7 linked regions of the Homo sapiens genome follow. The protein of the gene in region 5 purifies or fractionates together with the protein of the main gene of each other region. This does not show direct contact. Each region holds a gene or a part of one and is shown on either strand. Other genes may lie near its edges. The genes, in order: PTPRF, AIG1, ATP2C1, DGKE, SLC6A12, DHRS7B and GALNT1.

Evidence for each region.
Region 1: the proteins of SLC6A12 (region 5) and PTPRF purify together in Homo sapiens (affinity purification with mass spectrometry; one large-scale study listed by BioGRID and IntAct). This does not show direct contact.
Region 2: the proteins of SLC6A12 (region 5) and AIG1 purify together in Homo sapiens (affinity purification with mass spectrometry; one large-scale study listed by BioGRID and IntAct). This does not show direct contact.
Region 3: the proteins of SLC6A12 (region 5) and ATP2C1 purify together in Homo sapiens (affinity purification with mass spectrometry; one large-scale study listed by BioGRID and IntAct). This does not show direct contact.
Region 4: the proteins of SLC6A12 (region 5) and DGKE purify together in Homo sapiens (affinity purification with mass spectrometry; one large-scale study listed by BioGRID and IntAct). This does not show direct contact.
Region 6: the proteins of SLC6A12 (region 5) and DHRS7B purify together in Homo sapiens (affinity purification with mass spectrometry; one large-scale study listed by BioGRID and IntAct). This does not show direct contact.
Region 7: the proteins of SLC6A12 (region 5) and GALNT1 purify together in Homo sapiens (affinity purification with mass spectrometry; one large-scale study listed by BioGRID and IntAct). This does not show direct contact.

The regions. Positions count from the first base shown.
Region 1 is NC_000001.11:43,600,383-43,603,882, reverse strand, and holds part of PTPRF (receptor-type tyrosine-protein phosphatase F isoform 1 precursor), read right to left. Parts: intron 1,813-3,500; coding exon 1,786-1,812; intron 468-1,785; coding exon 350-467; intron 273-349; coding exon 1-272. UniProt on the Homo sapiens protein: Possible cell adhesion receptor. It possesses an intrinsic protein tyrosine phosphatase activity (PTPase) and dephosphorylates EPHA2 regulating its activity.
Region 2 is NC_000006.12:143,133,889-143,137,388, forward strand, and holds part of AIG1 (androgen-induced gene 1 protein), read left to right. Parts: intron 1-1,317; exon of another isoform or gene 1,318-1,444; intron 1,445-2,946; coding exon 2,947-3,102; intron 3,103-3,500. UniProt on the Homo sapiens protein: Hydrolyzes bioactive fatty-acid esters of hydroxy-fatty acids (FAHFAs), but not other major classes of lipids. Show a preference for FAHFAs with branching distal from the carboxylate head group of the lipids.
Region 3 is NC_000003.12:130,995,084-130,998,583, reverse strand, and holds part of ATP2C1 (calcium-transporting ATPase type 2C member 1), read right to left. Parts: intron 2,542-3,500; coding exon 2,473-2,541; intron 1,905-2,472; coding exon 1,788-1,904; intron 979-1,787; coding exon 831-978; intron 291-830; coding exon 195-290; intron 1-194. UniProt on the Homo sapiens protein: ATP-driven pump that supplies the Golgi apparatus with Ca(2+) and Mn(2+) ions, both essential cofactors for processing and trafficking of newly synthesized proteins in the secretory pathway.
Region 4 is NC_000017.11:56,837,151-56,840,650, reverse strand, and holds part of DGKE (diacylglycerol kinase epsilon), read right to left. Parts: exon of another isoform or gene 2,031-3,500; intron 1-2,030. UniProt on the Homo sapiens protein: Membrane-bound diacylglycerol kinase that converts diacylglycerol/DAG into phosphatidic acid/phosphatidate/PA and regulates the respective levels of these two bioactive lipids.
Region 5 is NC_000012.12:200,658-204,157, forward strand, and holds part of SLC6A12 (sodium- and chloride-dependent betaine transporter), read right to left. Parts: exon of another isoform or gene 3,361-3,500; intron 3,095-3,360; exon of another isoform or gene 2,781-3,094; intron 2,224-2,780; coding exon 2,083-2,223; intron 1,193-2,082; coding exon 1,105-1,192; intron 127-1,104; coding exon 1-126. UniProt on the Homo sapiens protein: Transporter that mediates cellular uptake of betaine and GABA in a sodium- and chloride-dependent process.
Region 6 is NC_000017.11:21,185,964-21,188,941, reverse strand, and holds part of DHRS7B (dehydrogenase/reductase SDR family member 7B), read right to left. Parts: intron 232-2,978; coding exon 79-231; intron 1-78.
Region 7 is NC_000018.10:35,693,240-35,696,739, reverse strand, and holds part of GALNT1 (polypeptide N-acetylgalactosaminyltransferase 1), read right to left. Parts: intron 525-3,500; exon of another isoform or gene 401-524; intron 1-400. UniProt on the Homo sapiens protein: Catalyzes the initial reaction in O-linked oligosaccharide biosynthesis, the transfer of an N-acetyl-D-galactosamine residue to a serine or threonine residue on the protein receptor.

The sequences.
Region 1 (3,500 bases), on a different chromosome or scaffold from region 5:
GGTCCTGATCTCCTTCTCGAACTCCTCACCCAAGCCAGCCCGGTTCTTGGCAGCAAGCCGGAAGATGTAGGTGGTCCCCTTGTGCAGGCCGGTGACTGTGAAGTGCTGGTCATCCTTGCCGAAATCTATGGTGTTGGGCCGCGCCTCGTCGGCCCGGCAGTACTGCAGCCGGTAGCCCAGCAGCTCGCCAGGCAGTTCCTTGGGTGGGTGCCACTGGAGCAGCGCAGTGTTCATGGCCGTGGTGCTGATCATCATGGTGGGCCGGCCTGGGACTGAAGGACCACGGGCTGGGCTCTGGCGCTGCCCTCCTGCTGCCCCACCCTCAGGTCCGTCCTGACCCCTCACTCACCTGCACCTGTTGTAGTGACAATTTTGGGCTTGCTGCGGGCACCATCCCCCTTGGTGGTATAGGCAGCAACAGTAACGGAGTAGGTGGTCTCCGGGGTCAGGCCGCTGATAGTGGTTTCCTGAGGGAGGAGGAGGGGTTCGTTCCCATCACAAGAATGCAGGGAGAGGCCAGACCTTGTCAGGGACCTCAGGACCCTAGCCTGAGGGGAGCCCCGGGGCACACAAGGCCAGGGGTTGTGGAAGGTGGGGCTATACAATGGTGGCCTCTGCTGGAGAGGAAGCAGGCAGGTAGGATGCAGGCCTGGGAGGACCCCGCCCATCCCAGGAGCCGCACGCCTGGGGCAGACAGCTCATTATTCTTTTCAGACAAGAACAAAGGGCCAGACTGTTTCCCTCACTCCACTGTGCTGTGAACGGAGACTGAGGATATCAACAGGGCACAGCCTCGCACGCACCCAGCACCTTGCGTGGCTCTTGGCAGCCACACGCACACAGCCTACAGCTCCTGCATAAGCAGGCGTAAGGCTGCCTGTGGACACCAGTGCATGCATGCACAGACAGAGCAAGGTGGCAGGATGGGCTAAGGTGCCATCCTATAGGACCCAGTCAGGACTCCGCTGCCCCCATATAGGCCACTAACTCTGTGAATGTCTATACCCTGCAATACCTCTTGAGAAAGGCAGGGGAGGGGCTAGGAGAATAAGAAAACCTCCACACCTGGGGAACTGGCTTCCACATCTGTTCTCAGTGATGCCTGAGACAGCAGCCAGGGCAATGTCCTCCCCGCTTGGCAGACCCTGCCCATATACCCATCTGCAGCAAAGGCATCATCTCTGGACATGCGGAGAAACACCATGGGAGGTCAAGCCACACCACACAGAGAGAAGAGTGGGAAGCAGGGCAGGGACCACCGTGCAGTGGGAACAGAGCCGTCATCAACCCTGGTATCCCTCCAGCTCTGGCCTTGAGTGGGGCCCCTGCAGCTGCCACCACCCCCTCATGGACCCCTCCTGCCACAGCTGGAGGGTCTCCCAGGGCTGGGGCTCCAGAATGCACCAATGCCAGAATCCGACTCTCCAGACAGCCCTCCCAGCCTGGGCCCTAAAGCAGGTGATTTTTCACTCCAGGGATCAATAAGGCCTAACGATCAGGATTGGATTTAACTCCATCCCTGTCTGGCCGGGGCAGGGGCCAGGCCCTGGTCGATCATGAACACTGGCCTCAAATTGCTGCTCGACAGGCAAGAAGTAAGGATTAGAGGAAATGCCAATCGCTGCTCAGCTCAGTGCTTGTGTCTAAACGCCAATTTTCTCCTGATGTGGCTAGAGCCCTGTGGATCTTGGCAGTGCAGGCTAGCAGGAAAGGAGGGAGAGGAGGAGCGTCCCACGAGCCCAGCTTGACCCATGTCTTGTCCGCGTTCGCACACCTGTTACTTACATAGTCCTCGGACTCCTCTGGCCGCCACTGACCGCGGGAGAGGGAGAGAAAGGGAGACAGGATGGTGAAGGACTCTGACCTGGAGAGGGCCTGGCCTGGAAGGGACCTTGCCCAGGGAGGACAGAGGGAGGGCTTTTGGGCCTCAAAGTACCCATGGGGGTAGCACCCCAGAACAACTCCCGGTTCAAAGATTTGAATCCCTGCCTCACTGAGCACCAACTGGGTGTGCCAGGGCTGAGGAGGGTAGGGAGACAGGGAGGGCAGGCAGCCTGCAGGGAGAGGACCCGCTGACAGAAGGCCCTAAGAACACAAAGCAGCTACAGATGCTCTGACAATTTTGGGCTTGCTGGGAGGGAGAGGCTGCCAGACAAGAAGGGTGGGTTCAACAGCTCAGGCCAAGGGAAAGGAAGACACTGAGGGGTGAATGGGGTGCCCATATGCCCTGGTTTGCCTCGGACAGTCCTGGCCTGTGCTTGTTGCCATGGAATTGACTATTCAGTGTCTCCTTCCACCCGCCAAAGCATCCCAGATGTGATCATACATTACACAATCACCCCAGGCATGAGAAGTGTCCCACAACAGTAAGAGTTGGGGGTGAACAGGGCACATGGCCAGGGTGGGCCCAAGGGCAAGCCAGTCAGCAAGACTATGAAGGCTGTGAGTGCCAAGCTCAGAGCCTGGGCTGTAGCCCACAGGCACGGGAAATCACCTATACCCGTTCCTTCCTCGGGGTGTCTGAGGATTAAGGTAGGAAGGAATGTTTCGGGGCTGGCAGTGTTGCGGGCCTTTGGTGCATGTAGATATTCTAGATGGACAGGTGGAGGGACTGTGAGGTCTCCATTCTGAGGCCCCATGAAACATCACAGGGAGATGGTCCAGGATGTCTCCAAGCCGGAAGTACCTGGGGTCCTCCAGCCCAAGCACCCCCACAGTGCCGGTCTGGCCTCTGTCCACTGGCCTCCATGCTGGGTGGCCTAAGTTCCTCCTGTCCTGGGACACTCTGTTGGAAAGTCCTTGCAAGAAGCATGGAACAGAATATGAGAGGAGACTCTGGACAGGTCCTTAGTGCATGGCCACTTTATAGGGTGTGGCTGGGCCCACGTCCCTTCCAGTCTCCTTGCCTGCGGGGAGACCTGGGCTGTCCCAACCAAGCCTTGGCGTGGAGGTTCTCACATCACATGGACCCTGTCCTGCGCTAGAGGCAGAGCAAGAAAGAAGGGAAGGACGGAGGATGAAACCAAATGGAGATGAAGGAAAGGGGTCAGAGGAATGGCAGGGGGAGGAGGGAAGGAAGGAGGAGAGAGAAGAGAAAGAGCAAGACAAAAACAGAGACTCCAAGAAGGAGAGAGAAATGCAGGCCACGAGAGGGGAAAAAGGGAGGCAGGGAGATGGAATCTGACGTAAAAGGAGACAGGTCTGGCTCCACACTTCCAGGCTGGGGGTGGGAACCTGCACCACATAGTTCCTTCAGGCATGATGGGGGATGAGCTGAGGGGATGGTGCTGTTGCGTGAAGGACAGAATGTGCCGCCCTTGACAGAAGCACAGGGACAGCTGGGCCCTGTGGCCACGCTCGGGACCAGGCCCCACTGCTCTCCCACTGGCGAGGAACAGAATGACCCAGTCCTGAGAGGGCTACGGAGCAGGCCTCCATCTTCAGTGTCCTCCGGGAGCCCAGACTCGAGTTACCGCCCCCATGATGGGATGTCTGAGACT
Region 2 (3,500 bases), on a different chromosome or scaffold from region 5:
TTTATCAGTACCAAGGCAATATTCTACTTCCTCTGCCTATAAACAAAAATCCCACAGAAATTTTACATATAATGCAGTAACTAGGCTTTTTGAGCTTACCAAACCCTATTTTTTAGTCAATCTTTAAAACTAAGGGATATTGAATTAGAAGGGAAGGATTTGAAAGAGGCTAGCCAACTATATTTCAAAAGAATAAAAACCACTCTCTTTAAACTTTTAAGTTATTTGAAAATATTTTACACCAGTGAAATATAGAGAGAATAATACAATCAATTTCAGTATGCCAAATAACCAACTTAAGAAATAAAATATTATTTGTACAGTTGAAGCCCTGTGCAGATAATATTTCCTCCAATCTTATCCTTCTCTCTCTAGAGGTACCTTAATGCAATGTTATTAATTCCCATGCATTTCTTCATGTATTACTTCATATCCCTGCATCCTTAAATTTATCTTTGCATTTTTTTTTGAAATTGATTTTAATTGTCAGAATTCTTTCCTGGTTTCCTTTTTTTTTTTTTTTTTGGTTTAACATTTTGTTGTGAAAATAAAATGTTTATATTGGTTTAGATTTCCATTGTATGAATATAACACCATTATTTATCCAGTCAACTATTAAGAAACATAGTTATTTCAACTTTTTTGAAGCAATGAACACTCAAATTAACCTTTGGTAGATATGACTAGTACACATATATGAGAGTTTCTGCAGGAAATGCCCTTTATAATTATATCACGAAATAAATAGAGTATATGCATCTTTAAGTTACTATAGATGGTCCACAACTCAGAATTTTTGACTTATTATATTTCGACTTTATGCTGGTGTGAAAGTGATCGCATTCAATAGAAACCATACTTTGAGTACTCATGAAGCCATTCTGTTTTTCATGTTCAGCACAATATTTAATAAGTTACATGATATTTTCAACATTTTATCATAAAACAGGCTTTGTGTTAGATGATTTCTCCCAACTGCAGGCTAATGTGTGTGTTCTGAGCACATTTTAGATAGGCTAAGCTAAGCTATGCTATTCTATAGGTCGGGTGTATTAAATGCATTTCCAACTTAAGATATTTTCAGTTTACTATGAGTTTATAGGGACGTAGCTGCATCATAAGTTGAGGAGCATCTGTAGATATTGTCAGTTGTTTTTCAAAGCGGTTGTCCAGATTTGCATTCCTACCATAAGCTTTCTGGTTGTTCTACATCTTTGTAACACTTGGTATTGTAAGAATTAAATTGTAAATAATTACACTGGTGAGAAATGCTACCTCATTGTGGTCTTAGTTTGCATTTCCCTGGTTGTTAGTTACCTTTTTATGTTTACTAGCCAGATTAGCTAGTAATGAAGAATAATGAAGATTATTCTCCTCTGGTAGGGTCACTCCAGTTTAATCAAACTCCATTAGGGCCAACATAGAGATTCAAACATCTAAAGTCCTAGGATATGAAAAATAGAAAGATATGAATAGGAATATATGAAAAATAGAAAATAGAACATTTTTCTAAGTATGAAATTATTCCCTGAGTCATTTAAGTTATTTCTAGTTATCAAAACATGACTCTTGCCAACACTTTTATTGTGTCGTTCTCAATTGTGGCAGTCTTAGCTTCTTTTACTCTGGCTTTTCTGGCTGCAGAAAGAATGACAGTAAACCTTAAGTCACTGAAGCTAAAGACAGGCTACGTTATGAGGAAACAGAACATTACTCTGCCTAAGACTGACTAATAATAGTAAGATTTGATGAACTCCAAAAAGCCTAGGTTAACAATTTCTGTGTTCTAGTGCTATGCTAAGTGATGGAACTAAATACTTTTTAGGATCCTTCTTCCCTTGTGAGGACCCTATCCACAGAGCTTTCACAGACTCTTTCTACTGCCAATGAGGAAATTTACCAAAAAAGGTCCTTGCTATCTTTTCTAAAGAGGCAATGAGTAAAATTGTGTCTTTTACAAAGATATCATCTGTAAACTATTTTCAGTAGGAAAAAAGCCAGAAAAATTTTCCTGAATCTATCCTTGGTGCTAATTGGGTATGACTTTGTGTGCAGGGGATACATTTTCTGCCCTTTCCATAATTTGAATGATCATCTATCTAGCTGCATTACAGTATGCTGCCTGCAGTGTTCTCCTTTGCAATAGTCCAAGTAAATAAAACATAGCTGATCTAAATGCTTCCATTCATAATTGATTTGAGGAATGTATAACCTGTAGTTTTTTTGGGGGGGCGGTTAGAGAAATTGTATGGGTATCTCTGTTTATATTACTTTGGAAATATTTTATTTCATAAATACTAAAAACCTGAGTAGAAGGTCATTTAGTTCAAGTTTGACAACAGAAACTTGTTTCATATCAGCCTTAATTATTACATTCAGTCGATTTTTTTATGACTCAAGGACCCACTTCCTACCACTTCCTTTGATAGAAAAAATATCTAAATGTAAGAGATGAAAGCATAGGAAAGTTTTTCACATTTAGACTGAATTGTCTTGTTATTCAGACAGTCCTCACCCTTTTGTTTTCACTTCTTAGATATTTGTTAAAACTCACTAGTTATATTGACTAGTAGAAACCATAGATGTGATTTAGACATGACATAGAAGAAACCATGACAAACCATAGACATGATGCTTTAAAATAATGGCCCTGCTGGTTTGATCGTTGATACTTCTTTCTGATGGGCCCTATTTAGATGTGTGTGTGCATGCATGTTTTGCACTTGTCCCGAGGTGAGTGAAAATGGAAGTGGTGTTTTAAAGATGAACTTTCTGTATAAAAGCAAGTTGTAAATGTCTGTTCTCTATTTCTAGGAGCAGCTCTTTAAAATATGCTTCTGATCCTTTCTTATTAGATGTCATGTTGTACACCAGCAGCTCATTTGCTGTTCCACAGCTTGGGTCTCCAGATCTTAATGACTCATACCGGCTGTTGTCCCCCTACAGGTTATCCAGGCTGTCTTTTTTGGCATCTGTGTGCTGACTGATCTTTCCAGTCTTCTGACTCGAGGAAGTGGGAACCAGGAGCAAGAGAGGCAGCTCAAGAAGCTCATCTCTCTCCGGGACTGGATGTTAGCTGTGTTGGCCTTTCCTGTTGGGGTTGTGAGTATGATGGAGGATGCATTTAGCCACAAAAGAAACTTGGCTCTTATTTCAGACTTCTAAGAGAAAAAAAAAGAGTTCATTATAAGAGGTTTCTGTATTATTAGTTTGCTGGAGCTGTCAGTACCACAGATGCGGTGGCTTAAACAACAAACATTTATTTTCTCGTAGTTCTGGAGGCTGAAGTCTGAGATGCAGTTGTCCACAGGGTTCGTTTCTTCTGAGGCCTCTCTCCCCTTGGCTTGCAGACAGCGCCTTCTGACTGTGTCTTCACACACTCATCCCTCTGTGCCTGTCTTTGCCTAAACTTCCTATTTTTATAAGGTATAGCAGTCATATTAGATTAGGGCCCCCTAATGACCTCATTCAACCATATATAATCACCTCTTGAGAAACCC
Region 3 (3,500 bases), on a different chromosome or scaffold from region 5:
AGCTTACCTCCCACAAATGCCCCATCCTCATTGTGACCAATGGCACATGTTTATAAGAAGGCTGTGTCTGGGGCTGCAATCTGTGGCTACAAAATTAAGCAAAGCTAAAAACCCATAATCTTTGCCTACTTATTAGAAAGCACTCTACTCAAGTGAGTCAATCAAGTCAATCAACTAAGTTCACCTAAACATACCTGGGATCTGGAACTTAGTGCATTGAACATGTCAAAAAACACAAAGCATGTGAAGGTCATTGTTGTGTCTCGAGGTGTAATCACATTGTCTCGTAGCTGTCAAGAGGCAATAACAAAATTACTTTTCAGTGGCTGAATTTAATGGATAAATCGCTGCTTTTTAAAAAATATAAACATTTTCTTTCCATTAGGAAGAAATAACTTTAGCCTAACACATGAAACATAAAAGCTACCTAAATTTCCTATAAATCACCTAGTGAATAGCTGTAATCTACATAATAAAAAGTAAAAAAAAAACTTCTCATGAACTATGTATTAGATATTAAAATACTGTTATTATTTAAAAATAATAAAGTGGCTCTATGATTTTAAGACTCAGATTTTCCAACTTCTCTCTAAATTTTCATGTATTTTTATTGTAACTGATACTTCTCTGCAGATTTATTCTAATACATGAATCAATAATTTTATTTATCCATAAAGATGGAAATCAAACTCTTTTAAAATGTTCTTATATTTTTCACTAAAAGAGCTCCCTTAACTTCCCAGCCTTCTGGGTAACCCATCAAAATAACTAAGAATCCTATCAGATATACAGAATTCATGTTAATATAGCAGCTTGGCCAGTGAATATACCTCACGCCAGAAGACAAACAAAGTCCCACAAACAATGATTATTGATGAAACAAGTATTTTAAGTATCAAGTTTTTAGTCAAAATGCTGTCTTTCCAGTTGCGAGGAGGTTTACGAATGACATCTTTATCCACTGGTTCTACTCCAAGGCTTAAAAACAAACAGAAAAATAAATTACTTTCAAGTTTTAAGGTCTGGATTTGTTACTTTCACAACCTCACTAACCTCAATTATTCGGCAAACTAAATGCTTTCTTATAGAAACAAAATGTTGCATCATAAAACGCTGGCTGATTACGCAAAAATAACCACTGATTTTGTCACTTTTTCTCTCCTCTTTATTTGTTTGGCACAATTTGATAGGGGATAGATAATCAACTTTCAAAAAACCATCCAATTCATTTACATGTAAGTTTACCTATTTCAAATACGGTGTGAAATACATGACCTACCGACTGAATTTTGAAATATCTTTCATATAAAGAGGTTTTAACTGGGATGATTTGCTGGAGTGGCCAAATGACATCTATCACTCAACTACCCCATTATTATTAAATTTTTTAAAAAAGTTATGACACTCAGGTCCTCTAATACTTTCCCAAAGTCTCTAAAACTGACAGTAGAACCTAGATAATAAAACTGAACCCAGAAATTTCTCCATTATACCCATTTCTTAGAAATAAAAGGCTTACTTACTTCCTGAGGACAGGGATAGCACCTATTCCTGATCTATTCTCAACCTTAGGCTAGGCATCTAACAGTGGAAAGGCTCAGATCTACACTGCATGCACACTCAAAAAGAATTAATAAAATACACACATCACACAATTTATAACATAAATGTTAAAACATTTGCTGCAAAGTTTTCCAACACTGTCCATAAATCAAGTTTTAAAACTTAATTATCAGGGTAGTACACATTCCTTGTCTTTCCAGCTCATGCAATTAAAAAACTCGTACCTCTGAGCTGGGGGTCCATCCATAATAATATTGATCCACAAAATCTGCATGGCATTGAGAGGATTAGGAAAGTTCATTAATGTAGCCAATGAGATTAAAGTTAATGCTGCTATACTCCTGTTGAAAAAGAGAGTCATTTAAAAATATCAGTAGAGTAAATCTGTTGATTCTATGATACCACTTTTTTAGCATTTAAAAATCTCTTACTACTATGCTTTTAAAGGAAGACTGTTTCAAGTAAACTATTCTTCAGTCACGTGGACATTTTAAAGCTAAGAGTATTTTAACAAAGGATTTTCAAGATGTTTAGACAACAGGAACAAATAAAGAATTTTTACATCTGCATGATAGTTTCAACAATATTTTGGTAACTGTTCTTTGACTACACAATACCCCTTCTACTTTTGGAAAAAGATACCAAGAGGAAACAATGAGATGTGAGCTATTAAATAAATCACAAAGATTTATACATTTTGATGATACAGACATCTAACTGTTACATTTACAACCTATTTATCATGCCATTTAAAATTTCAGAATACAATAAATTTTCTTTTTGGAAAACTGACATATGAACAATGCTCACAAATATAAGGCAGAGAAGTTTCTAGGCATTCTGCTTAAGTTCTACTTTTCATATAATTTATCCAGAAGACCCATGGTGACAAATTTCTTGCAAACTTACGTGCTCAGCTGGAATCTAACGAAATTTTTAATGTTATTATAAATCCCTTTACCCTCTTCGATTGCAGACCTGAAATTTAAAAAATAAAGATGAAGTGAGAAAATATTATCATACAAAAATGTATCTATACTAAAACACTGTAGAGCTAATTTTGAAAATAAATTTCCAACCGGGCACTGTGGCTCATGCCTGTAATCCCAGCACACTGGGAGGCCGAAACTGGCAGATCACCTGGGGTCACGAGTTCGGACCAGCCTGGCCACCATGGTGCAGCGAAACTCCGTCTCTACTAAAAATACAAAAATTAGCCGGGTGTGGTGGCGCATGCCTGTAATCCCAGCTACTCGGGAGGCTGAGGCAGGAGAATCGCTTAAACCCGGGAGGCGGAGGTTGCAGTGAGCCAAGATCACACCACTGCACTCCAGCCTTGGCAACAAAGTGAGACTGACTCAAACAAACAAACAAATAAATAAAATAAAATTCCAACTAATACAACACATGTATCAATATGGAAACATTTATTTTAGCAAAGAATTAAAGTCAAGCCTAAGCTCTACCTGAACTAATTTGTCACAATATTAAAATTCTTATTCTGAAGAAGATACTTCAACATTAAAATCATGCATTGTCTCTTCACACAAGAGAAAATACTTCACATTCATAATACATAAAATGATTATCTTTTTTTTTTTTTTTTGAGACAGGGTCTTGCCCTGCTTCCCAGGCTGGAGCGCAGTGGCACAACCTTGACTTACCTGCAGCCTCGACCTTCTTGGCTCAAGCAATCCTCCAGCTCAGCCTCTAGAGTAGCTGAGACCACAGGCTCACATCACCACTCCCAGCTATTTTTTTTGTATTGTTTGGAGAGATGGGTTTTGACATGTTGCCTAGGCTGGTTTCGAACTCCTGGGCTCAAGTGATCCATCCACCTCAGCCTCCCAAAGTGCTGGCATTACAGGCATGAGGTACCCTGCCCAGCCATGATTATCTTCTTCACCTTCCTCTAAGCTCATTTTTCTTAGTGGTAC
Region 4 (3,500 bases), on a different chromosome or scaffold from region 5:
ATCCCAGGATTTGGGAGGCCAGGCGGGCGGATCACCTGAGGTCAGAAGTTTGAGACCAGCCTGAGTAACATGGTGAAACCCTGTCTCTCCTGAAAATATAAAAAATAATTGGCCAGGTGTGGTGGTGCATGCCTGTAATCCCAGCTACTCGGGAGGCTGAGGCGGGTGAATCACTTGAGCCTGGGAGGTAGAGGTAGCAGTGAGCCGAGATCATGTCACTGCACTGCAACCTGAGCGACAGAGTGAGACTGTCTCAAAAAACAACAACAACAACAACAACAACAAAACAAACTACTGCATTAATCTACCCATAATAAATCTGGCGTATTATGAAGAGTTAACCTTCTCCCCTCCCCCAAGAGCACTTGTCCTAACACGATTCATAAAACCATCTTTTCTACCCCCAATAATTTGTGACAGAACACTTATCATTTATTAAATTCTCATAAATTTCAGAAAAGATTATTATTATTACTATTATTTTTTGAGATGGAGTTTCGCTCTTGTTGCCCAGACTGGAGTGCAATGGCGCGATCTCGGCTCACAGCAACCTCCGCCTCCTGGGTTCAAGCAATTCTCCTGCCTCAGCCTCCCGAGTAGCTGGGATTACAGGCATGCGCCACCACACTCGGCTAATTTTGTACTTTTAGTAGAGATGGGGTTTCTCCATATTGGTCAGGCTGGTCTCGAACTCTGCCCGCCTTGGCCTCCCAAAGTGCTGGGATTACAGGCATGAGCCACTGCGCTCAGCCCAGAAAAGATTATTTTAACCAAGATAATAGCTATTATGAGCCTTTGCTCTATAAAGGTACAGCTAAAATGCTTACTAGGGCCAGGCATGGTGGCTTACGCCTGCAATCCCAGCACTTTGGGAGGCCAAGATGCGAGGATTGCTTGAGCCCAGGAATTTGAGACCAGCCTGGGCAATATGGTGATACTCCTATCTCTACAAAAAAGAAAAAAAAAATATCAGGCATGGTGGTGCATGTCTGTAGTCCCAGCTACTTGGAAGGCTGAGGTGGGAGGATTGCTTGAACCTGGGAGGCTAAGGCTGCAGTAAGCCATAATCTTGCCACCGTCTTCCAGCCTAGGCAATATAGAGTAAGACCCTGTCTCAAAAAACAAAATAAAATAAAATGCTTACTAATTACTCAGTATTACATTCTTCTTTAGAAATACCATATTCAAACCTGAATCCTATTGTCTTTACCTATGTTGTAATTGGTATTTAACAACCTAGATTTCAAACTCACTGGGAAGATAAGACATTACTAAAATGTCTTGGTATTTCAGCTTTAGCATCATGTCATTGGGTAACAGCTTATCATCTTTTTTCTTTTTATTTTGAAAAATTCCAAACTTTCAGAGAAGTCAAAAGGATAGCAAAATGAATACCCTAAGCCCACCCTTCACGCTGATTCTTAATGACATTTTCTCCCACAATATTCTCTTTCCATATAAATTCATATTTTTTTGATCATTTGAAAGTAAACTGCAGACAGTATGAGATCTCACCCTTCAATATTTTAGCAAATATATTCTAAAAGCAAGAATAGTTTACTTGCTTTTTAAAATATTTTACTTAAAAATATTTTTTACAGGTATGCCTACCACCTACATTCTACCATTAACATCTTACTGTAATTGCTTTGTCACATTTCTATCCATTAATTCATCTTATTTTTAGTACATTTCCAAGTAAACTGAAGACATCAGAATACTTCCTGAATACATCAGCAAATAGGCTTATCACTACCTAGAATTCATGATGTTTTTTCCTTTTCATGTAAAATTTACATACAATGAAATGTACGTATATACTTCCTGAGTTTTGATAAATGAACATACGTAACTAAAACCCTTATCAAGATATAGAACATTACTCTAGAAAGTTCCTTCATATGAAAATATGGAATGCCTCATGAATTTATATGCCGTTCTTGTGCAGTAGTATTTATAGAAAAAAAAAAGGTTTAACAAGGCTTGTTTTCTCTAAAAAATTACCTGGTCACAATAGCTCTCTTTTTTAGTGTGCTGAAGGAGGCAGCTGAATTATACATAAAGTTGAGATGGTCATTTATAAGATTCACTAGAACAGGGTTCTGCAAACTGCAAATATGTCTGCCATCTGATTTTGTGAATGAAGTTTTACTGGAACACAGGTAAGCTCATTCATTTATGTATTGTCCATGGCTGGTTTTGCACTGCAACTATGGCAGAGTTAAGTAATTATGACAGACGAAATGGTTGGGAAAGCCGAAAATTCTTTTGGCTCTTTACAGTAAGTTTGCCCACCTCTGCTCTAGAAGATGATTTGGTATCTTTCACTGTTTCAGATAATTAATGAAATGAATAAACACACACCAATAGAATATAGAAACAAAATTTATGATCAAAGCTGAGACTAGTTACACTGAGGCCAATCTAACTGCCTTCTGAGAGTCAGCAGCTTTGTTTTACTAATCACAGTAATTGTGTGTGAGGCGTGGGGTAGATGTAATGAATAAAAAGTCCAATAAATTAAAAAGCACTTTAAGTTCTTTTTCTCTTAATGAGATAGAACACTACAAGAAACAAAGGTTCATTTAATAAATATATTGAATATGTAAAAATATAACCTAATTCCCTATTTTAGTCAGAGGAGAGATAAGAAGAAGAAAAAGAAGATGTAGTGGTTGGGGGTAGAAACAGGAGCACACAAAAAGAAAAAATCTACAGACAAAGTAGACTCTAGCAGTGTCTAGAACAAAAATAGATGCTCAATAAGTATAATGATCGAATGAGTATAAATTAAAGGGCCTTTCTCACTTATTCTGCAGGCTTTAAACTCAGTCATCATCTCTCATTAGTGTCCTTTGAAATGTAACTTGTCTGCAGAGTTCACTCACTTCCCTAAGAATGAGATGCAGACAGGGAAGGAGCTCTCCTCAGGGCTAGATAAAATCCAGAGGACTGTCTGGTCTGTGTTTAAAGGTTCTAAGTAGCTATTTATTTTGTTTCTCCTTCCAAAATATCTCATTCCTACAGAAGGTCACAGGAGACTGTAATCCTGTATACAATTATTGGCCAACATAAATCAGTTCAGAACACTGTAGAATATGTACAACTTCAGGACACTGTGGTCTCTTCTCTTGGGAATAATAAACATCTCCTAAATTACACAGAGACAATTTCTATCATGGGGTAAGGGGTTACTCTGTAAAAATGCACTAATGAAGAAAAGAAGATTTATTATCACACAGATTCAGTGTGCTCAATGGGAGGATACAAAATTAAGAGACGGAGGTGCATGTTTTTAAAGATATGTAAATATAGCAGTGGTTCTCCATCTTTAGAAGGACCTGTAGGGCCTGTTAAAACCAAGACTGCTGATGTCCAGCCCAAGTTTCTGATTTAGTAGGTCTGGGGTTGGGCTAGGGTTGCCAGAAAAAAAAAACAAAAAAACGGCAATGCCTAGTTGAATTTGAATTTCAGAGAAACTTTTTATGTTCCAAATTCTG
Region 5 (3,500 bases):
GTGGACTTGACCCCCTTCCAGATGCAGAAATAGCAGATGACCCAGGCGAGCAGGAGGCACAGGGCCAGCTCCCAGCGCAGGGAGCCCAGGTCATGGATGCCCGAGGTGATGCCCAGAACTCGTCTCCTGGAGGATTGGGAAAAATAAGTAATGAGGGGAAAGGCTAAAGGGGACAGTTTGCGTCTGTCAGCAAGTCTCCTGATTCTCAGAGCTGACCCCACGGATCTCATATTCCAGGGCTTCCCCCACTCCCCACCTCCCCCACAGTCAGGCCATGTTCCCGTAGACCAAACTACTACCATCATCCTATGCATATCTTTATCTTTCTAACTCATCCAGATTTTTTTTCTCGTACAGAAAGATGGAGAGAGAGAGAGATGAGGAATGTATAAATGAGCGTTTAGAGAGTAGATATTTATACATGCAGGTTGATGGGCAAGTGCATGGGTATCCCGTGCAGGGGCTGAGTGTGTTAGTTTCTAAACATGTGATGGGGTGCTGGAACTGCATGCATGGGTGTGAGGGTCCAGTACTGTGAGGGCATTCAGGTGTGAGGGCATTGGTGCCTACGTGGGGGTTAGCTCAGTGTGAGAGAGTACAGGCAGTCTTGCGTGGGAATGCAGGTGGACGAGTGTGGGCACACGTAATGTGAAGGGGTACGTTGTCAGGTGAGAGGGTGAGTGTGTGAGTGGAGGGTGTGCCCATGTCTTGATGTGAGCACTCCCGCCTTGGGCAATTTCAAGCTACTGGCATGACACCACCGAGCATGGCAGTGGGAAGAGACATGCACACTCAGCTCCCCTAAAGCTGTGAAGACTCTGTCCAGCACCCCACTGGACATGTGTGGGCAGACACACGCATGGAGGTAGGGATGTGGGGCTGAAGGTGGACATGACGGATAAATGTGAGTCTCCGTGGACCCGTGTGGGTAGATGTGAGAGCGTTCTCCCCTGCCTCAGTGATGTGTGGGGTTGGAGTGGGGCGGGGGAGGAAGTGCTGGAAAGCACACACAGAATCTTAAACTTGCACCCCAGACATTCAGACTTGCACAGCTCAGACATCCAAATTTCCTCTTCATATGTGGCAAATGGGCCCAGCACCTACTCCCAGAATTCCATGACAGGTGAGGTAAAATTCTCAAATGGGGTCACTGTGCCGGCTCCTGAGTGGTTCAGAAAGTCCGTGCAATGCTCTGTTGGGGACAAGGTTAGGGACAAGATGGAGAGAGATGCTCTTATACCCTAGTCCCCCTGGCCCTCTGGCCTTGCAGCCTAGTGGTCCTCACCACTCCTAGCCCCAAGAGCTTCTTTTGGAGCCCCCACTCTCCAGGGCATCAGGAGGCTCATAGGGCCAGCTCTTCCTCCCCCTGCTCTTGTTCCCTGTGAATCTGCCTGCTCACCTGGCTGCCCTGCCAACCTCAGACAGTATCCAGACTTCAGATCTACTCAGTCCCCTCATGGGCGGCTGGTACGGAATGCACTCTCCCCGCTTGCCCGTTCTGACTTCCTGTCTCTCCACTTGGCAGGCCAAGGGACTGCGGCCCTGCACCTGCTCTTCCCCCTGCTTGGAATGCTGCCCCCATGCTGGGCTCTCTCTCACTTCAGGCCTCAGATGACACTTCTCCCTCCCCTTGTTCTATGGTTTCTGCAGTTTCGTTCACCTATCACAATTTGTAGTGGTTGTGTTTATTTGTCTGTTCTTACCACCAGACTGTAAACACAGTGAAGGCTGGGTCCCTGCTGCTTTTGCTCAGCCTCGTACCAATCTCCAGCCCTTGGCACCGTGTTTAACACACAGTAGGTGTCCAGTAAGTGCTTGTTAAGCGCACAAATGAGTAAGTGGCAATAACCCTTGCAGTCATTTAATACAGTCCCTCTGGGTTCTCCCAACCACACTGACTCGTCCGAGTGGCTGGCCTGAGGGCCTCAGAGGAGCCAAGGAGCAGAGCTGCCCAGGAGCCCACGTGGCTTGGCTGCCAGGCAGGTTCTGCTACACTTATACTCCCCGTCGTTGCTTGGATTCACCAGCCACCGCAGCCCAGCCCCTAACAGGCAACATCCCAGGGGCTGAAATGATGGATACCTGTGTTCCAAAAGTTGTTGCAGGTCGTCCAGGGCAGCTCAGAAGTGAAGGAGCTGAACAGGTAGAAGAGAGCCCAGGCAAGGATGATGATGTAGTAGACATTCAAATATGACTCGATGACCACAGATGCCAGACCAATGCCTTCCAGAGTGGGGGAGAGATGGGGAGGGACAAGAGAGATCAATGTTAGCAAAAAAGTCACATAGAAGCTGCCAGTTGAGGTTACAAGGGTATTGGGTGCTACACAAAGAGCACCATTGGGGTTTATCCAGTGGCATGAGAAGCCATTCATAGCATATTTTTCTTTCTTTTTTCTTTTCTTTTTTTTTTTTTTTTTTTTTTTTTGAGATGGAGTCTTGTTCTGTTGTCCAGGCTGGAGTGCAGTGGCACAGTCTCGGCTCACTGGAACCTCCACTTCCCGGGTTCAAGCGATCCTCCCACCTCAGCCTCCGGAGTAGCTGGGACCACAGACAGACCCGGCTAATTTTAACTTTTTTTTTGTAGAGACGGGAGAAGGGGAGGGTCTCGCTATGCTGCCCAGGCTGGTCTCGAACTCCCGGGCTCAGGCGATCCTCCTGCCTCAGCCTCCCGAAGTGCTCACTACTTAACGAAGGACTGTGGACCTTTCAGAACAGCCTGGCTGAAAAATCAATGCTGACTATGAACAAAACCTCTCCTTTGGGGCCCGGCGAGCCCACCCTGGCAAGGACGGGTTCCACCGCGGTCTCCACCGCGCAGCGGCGTTGGGGCGGCCCGGGCGTCCGCCGCGGGGGTGGGCGTGGCGCTGCGCGGGAGGGACCCGCAGACGGCAGAGGGTCCGCGGGGAGCGGGCGGGGCGTTGAGAGCGCGCACACAGACACCCAAAAAACACACAAACAAGCGGCCCCTGTGCCGCGGCGGAACGCGCTGTGCTCGCGGCCGTCCGGCCCGTCCGGCAGCCCCGGGTCAGCCCGGTGAACTAAGCGGACCCGGGATGGCCGAGCCGGGGGCCGGCGTTCTGGTGGGGCTGTCTGGGAGAGGGGCCGGGGCGGCGCTGGGTGGAGAAGGGGCTCGCGGGGGAGCGCGGGGGCGCGCGGGGGCGCGCCTCGAGCCAGTACGGCAGCTCCGGGAGAGGGGAGTGCGGCGGGCGGAGAGGCCGGCAGAGGGCGGGGAGGGCAGCCCGGACCTCCCACCAGCACAGCGCGGTGCACGCGCTTCCCGCTGAGATGCCAGGCCCTGCCGCCTCTTTGACTTGGAAAAGAAGGAAAGAGCCACGACCTCTCTCCTCTCGCATTCCAGTGCTCCGTTTGCTCACCCTGACCGTGGCACCCGCATAAGCCGTCTGTGTGTTCCAGAGAGGCCAGCCCTGCATGTGCTGTCCGTGAGCGTGCTTGGACCTACGCATAGGACCCAGCTGAGCGGGACATTTACACGACTGC
Region 6 (2,978 bases), on a different chromosome or scaffold from region 5:
TCACTGAAGTAAGAGCAGCATGTCTCACTGTGGCTGACCGACAGATTTTCATAGGAGAAAAGAGAAACCGGGCCTCACCTCCATACCTAGATCCATCCGCGGTGATGGCATTTACAGAGAGGTTGGTGTGGATGTAGCCGGGGCTGATGACGGTCACCTCAATTTCATACTGTTCCATCTCGGCACGCAGACAGTCAAAGAAAGCCTGGGTTGCGTGCTTGGAGGCTGCATCTACACATGTGGACGGAGAGGCAGGTGACTGAGTGCGCTGGGGTGGGCATGGCCTGGTGCCCAACTATTCACTACCATTCACGCTCTCTGTTTTGAAAACCTGGTTTTATTTGTGATCGTCTTGCTATGTTGCTTAGGCTGGACTCCAGCTCCTGAGCTCAAGTGATCCTCCTGCCTCAGCTGGGACTGCAAGCGTGGGCCACTGTGCCCAGCTTTAAAACCTGGTTTTATTATTTAAGATTACAGTATTATAACAATGTTCATTTCCTGACTTTGAGAAGTGTACTGTGCCCTTGTTCTTAGGAAACAAACTGAAATAGGAATAAATGAGCATCATGTCTCCAGTTTCCTTTCAAATGGTTCAGGAAAAAAATTATAAATTATATACACATATAGTTTTATATATATTATAAACGGTATATATGCATATACACAGAGAGAGAGAATAAGATAAAGGAAATAAGGTAAAAGGTTAACAGGGAATCTGCATGAAGGGTGCATGGGAGTAATTTGTGCTGTTCCTGCAACTTTAAGTCTGAAGTTATTCCAAGTTAAAAGTTAAGCTGGGCGCGGTGGCTCACACCTGTAATCCCAGCACTTTGGGAGGCCAAGGTGAGCGGATCACGAGGTCAGGAGATCGAGACCATCCTAGCTAACACGATGAAACCCCGTCTCTACTAAATATACAAAAAAAATTAGCCAGGCTTGGTGGCGGGTGCCTGTAGTCCCAGCTACACGGGAGGCTGAGGCAGGAGAATGGTGTGAACCCAGGAGGTGGAGCTTGCAGTGAGCGGAGATCGCGCCACTGCACTCCAGCCTGGGCGACAGAGCGAGACTCCATCTCAAAAATAAATAAATAAATAAATAAATAAATAAATAAAAGTTAAAAACAAAAAAAACTGAATGACTACTGGGTAAAACATTCAAATAGTACATTAAAGGACAGAAAGTACAAAAAAAGAAAGTCCTCCTGTCTTCCAAATTCCATTCCTAGAGATAATCAGTGCTAACAGTTTCCCAGAATTTTTGTTTAATTCTATTTTGGTTTTCTTTTTTTTCCTTTTTTTTTTTTTTTTTGAGACAGAGTCTCGCTCTGCCACCCAGGCGGGAGTGCTGGAGTGCAGTGGCACGATCTTGGCTCACTGCAAACTCCGCCTCCCGGGTTCACACCGTTCTTCTCCCTCAGCCTCCCGAGTAGCTGGGACTACAGGCACCCGCCACCACGCCCGGCTACTTTTTTGTATTTTTTAGTAGAGACGGGGTTTCACTATGTTAGCCAGGATGGTCTGGATCTACTGACCTCGTGATGCACCGACCTCAGCCTCCCAGAGTGCTGGGATTACAGGCGTGAGCCACCGCACCCGGCCTTCTGTTTTGTTTTTTTAGAGAAGGCATCTTCTCTGTTACCCAGGCTGGAGTAGAGCTATGATCATAGGATCATAGCTCCTTGCAGCCTCGACTTCCTGGCCTCAAGCAATCCTCCCACTTCACCCTCCCAAAGTGCTGGTGGGATTACAGGAGTAAGCAGCCATGCCCAGTGATTTTTTAAAAATATATTCTACGTATATTCATGTGATTTTACACATTTTATATATTTTATATATATATATATATATCTTTTAATACAGAAATGAACTCTTACCTATTCTACTGTTCCTGCAAGTAGCTTTCTTCACCTGGTGGCAGGTTGGACAGCTCCCATGCTGGCCCTGCAGACCTGCCATGTAGCTGTGGCTGCCTAGTCCTCCCCAGTGAGTTACCAAGTGACAGAATTGGCCCCATCAGTGGGCCTTCATGGGTGTAAAAAATCCAAACCTGCCTTCTTATGTCTCATTTTGACAAATGTCCAGGCAGTGGCTTTTCATCTAGAAGAGCTATAGAGCTTACTCCACCTGCAAGAAACAGAGCTGTGCCTGCTCTCGAGCAAGGGCTTCACAACCCGGTAAAAGGTGCTCTGAATGGGAACACAGTGACCCTATAATGACATTCCTGGGAAACACACCAGCGTCTCCACAGTAAATCAGTTTCCTCCAATTCAGAATTGTAAATGTTTTAGCCTTAGGAAAGAAGGGGCATCCGTCAGCTAAGGAAACAGGAAGACAGAAAGAAAGGAAGTGTCGCAGCAAGTCACATGAGGCAGTTCAGCAGTGTCTGAGCTTGCTGCAGTGCCTTGCTGGGCCTGCTCCATTGGTTTGGGGCACAGTTGCTGGGGGCTGGATGAGTTGGCTGTGGGTGGATGGAGAGGACTGCTCCTATCAGCCATGATTCCAAGAGTACAGCCCAGGCTTGGGGACAGGGAAGAGTGGGTTATCATGTAAGTCCCCAAAACAGAAGGCTACACTCTGACAGCTGGGTCTCCCCAGAGCTCTCAGGCTGTGAGTTCTCAGCCAGGCTGTGCTGACCTCGCCGCTGGCCACATCACTTACCCTGCCAGTGTGAGGCCCAGTACTAAGGACACTGTGGACCACGTGACTTGGTCTTTACTTTAGCAGTGTGACAGAGAAAATGCCGTTCTCCTCATTTTATAGGTGAGAAGGCCACTACTTATCTGAGTTAACCAACTTGCCCAAGAGGCACTCCATATTCAGCCTGGTCATTATAAAACTGAATACGGAGACCAACCATTGTATGCCTTACTGCAGTCAGCAGGCCAGACAACAAAAATCAGTGGTATTATTATAAATCAAAGTAAAACTTGAAAATAATTTAGTATAAAGAACTCCAGCTGGGCGCGGTGGCTCATGCCT
Region 7 (3,500 bases), on a different chromosome or scaffold from region 5:
TTTATTTGTGTCTCAGTTTACTTATCTGTGAAGTGGAAATAACAGCACAATCCTATAGTGTTGTGCTTTAATATTCATCAAGCATTCAGATTTGTGCTTGACATAAAGTACATGCTCAGTAAATGTTAGGATTATTAGATCTGCCTGGAAAAGCAATTGGTCAGCCCCTAAAACTGACTAAACCAGTAAAGGTCTAGATTGTTTACTTTTTGTTGTTTAGAATACTCAGCTCCTGAGTTAACAACTATCAGATACCACAATGAAACACATTTGTTCAGGTCCTACAGGAACTACGAACGTCAGCGTTAGCTGAAGCCAGATGCCCTAAATTATATCTATTACCCTAGTCATATTTACATTTTCTGATTTCCCTTTCTGCTGAAAAATCCTATGATTTCAGGTTTCCCTGGACCCTTGAAGCATGAGAAGAGATCTATGAAAGGCTAAATTACTGTTGCTAGCAAAGGAAGGCTCACATGGGTGAAGCTGTGATCAGAAGCATAAGATCCCTGGGCTGCACTATGGTGGGTACTCTTAAGAATGACCTCCAATCTAGAAATGACACTTTTAACCTGTAGGATGTGGCCTGGTATTAAGGGCGTACAAGGCTTAAGGCCAGCTGTTAAGTTAATAAGGCGATAACAAGCAGGCCACAGAGGGTAAACGCTGCGACTTGCCCAGAAGCCAGCTGGCAAGAGGCAGGTAAGACGCAAGCTTGCCTTGGCAGTCATCTACCATGGAGCAGACAAGTGTTTCTTTGTCACACGCCCGAACTCTGGCCCAGCTAACAATGCCTAGGCATTGTCCAAAATTGGGTCAGCTCAAAAAAAACAAAACAAAAACAAAAAACTCCTCATTTTTGGTTCTAAAGACAAGCTGCAGAGTGACTGCTAGAAATCTTTCCCTGGCGCACCACTCACCCTGGGCCTTCTTTGACCAGTACGAGGTCACAGCAAAGGAAAACACATTCCCATTAATGAGGCATCAGTGAGAATGAAAGGCTCAAGAAACTCAATGTAGCCCTCACTTGTTTGAAAACAAATTCCTTAAATCACAACAAGGTTCAGAGGTAGGGAGCTCAAGTCAATCCTGAAGTAGCCTTAGTAACTGTTAGGATAAATGCGTAAGTCTGTGCCTGCCCTGGCACTGAAGAAAACACCAGGCCAGATGGCTTCACCAACTCTCCACCATCTGGCTTCCTTCAGTGATCTACTTGCTTTCCCTTATCTTACATTTCTATTTTACATCCTTTTCTCTTTCCCCAATTCCCCCTCACCAACACCTTCTTCACTCTCAGCCCATAATCTTGTGTTCAACTGAGGAAACAAGCCACCAGAAGAGAAGGTCCTCACACTTCCACCACAAACTGCCAGTTTCCACCTCCAAACCTACAGCTGCCCTGCACTTGTTCCCATTCCTCTACCTTCCTCCCCATGATAAGAGATGACCTCTCTTCTTCCCACCCCCACCCAACACCCTCTACTTGTGTACAGATTTCACCTCCTATCCACCCAAATACATGACACCCATAACAACAGATCCCTTCTTTCTTTTTATTCTGGTGCAGAAACACATAACATAAAATTTACCATCTAAACTGTTTTCAAGTGTACAGTTTAGTAGTGTTAAGTATATTCAGGCTGTTGTGAAACAAATCTCCAGAACTTTTTCATCTTGCAAATGTGAAACTCTATGCCCATGAAGTAACTCTTCTTTAGGCCCTTCCCTCAGCCCTGGTAACCACCATTCTACTTTCTGTTTCTATGAGTTTGACTATTCTAGCTGCCTTATATAAGGAGAATCATACAGCATTTCTCTTTTGGTGACTGTCGTATTATGCTTAACATAAGGTCCTCAAGGTTCATCCATGTTGTAGCATGTATCAGAATTTCCTTCCTTTTTAAGACTGAAAAATATTCCATTGTACGTTGTATCACGATTTATAGCAGTCACTCTGTAGCTTGTCTTTAGAACCAAGAAGGAGGAGTTTTTTACTTTGAACTGACCCAATTTTGGACAATGCCTAAGCATTGCTAGCTGGGCCAGAATGAACGGACACGTGGAGTGCTTCTACTTCTTGGCTATTGTGAATAGTGCTGTTATAAACATGTAAGTAAAAGTAACTCTTCAGACCCTGCGTTCATTTCCTTTGGATACATACCCTGAGGTGGAATTGCTGGATAATATCGTAGTTCTCTTTTTTGAGCATTTTTTGAGAAACCTCCATACTATTTTTAAATAGCAGTTGTACCATTTTACATTCACACCAACAATGCACAAGGGTTCCAATTTTTCAGTATCCTTGCCAACATGTGTCATTCTCTGTTTTTTTGATAGTGGCCATTCTAATGGGTGTTAAGTTGGCTCTTTCTTTTGCATCTTTAAATTTTCTCTTTTGGGTTGCTCATATCAGCACAGTTTTATCTTAATAAAGAAATAAAAACCCCTTTAAGCCCATATTCTCCTCCAGCTACCACCTATTTATCTTCTCTCTTTTACAAGAAAATTCCTTGCAAGACTTGTACACATTCATCTATGTTGCTTCTTCCATTCTCTCTTCAAAACAGAGTTTTTAACAACATCCATGGGGAACTCTCTCAACACTGTGAGATAGGCTACTGATAACATGTCCCTAGCCAAATGCAATAACCAATTCTAAGTACTCATCTTCCTCAATTTCTCTGCAGTATTCGATACAGCTGATCACTTCCTCTTTCCTGAAACACGTCTTTCCCTTAGTCTTGGCGACACCACTCTCTAGGTTCTCCTATTTCACTGCCTACTCCTTCTCAATCTTTTTTGCTGATTCCTTCTCATCTCCATGATTTCTAAACTGTGGCATTCCCTCTGGCATTGTCCTCGGTCTTCTCTCTCATACTTAACATTTTCTCCTCCTCAGGTGACCTCATACAGTTTTGTGGCTTTAAAAACCATCCTATATGCTGACAACCTAAGTTAACATCTCTATCACAACCTCTCCCCCAAAGTGAATATTCTTAAATGTAAAGACCTATTCATATCTTCACTTGGATCTCAAATTTGATGTGTCCCAAACTACTGTTGATTCCCTTGAGCATCTGCTCTTCCTGTAGGTTTTCCCATCTCAGTAATGGCAACTTTACAGTCAGTGTCTCAAGCTTGATAGAAACCAGACATAATCCTTTACTCTCTTCAACAATACACCAGCTCTACTCCTGTTTCCATATAGTTTTTCTCCACATAGCATACAATGTGATCCTTTTCTAGTGGAAGTTTGCTGGTATCTTTCGATAGCTTCCATTTGATTCAGAATAAAATGCAAAATGCAAAGTTCTCACTATAACCTAAAAGCTTTATATGATTTGACCCTCACTTTGTCTTTGACCTTATCTTCTACTACTCTCCACCTTGTTCACTCTATTCCAGACAACTGGTCTCCCTGCTGTTTCTGGAACGCGCTAAGTACATTGTCATCTTAGAAACCTTTATACTTGTTCTTCCCTGTGCCCAGAATACTCTTT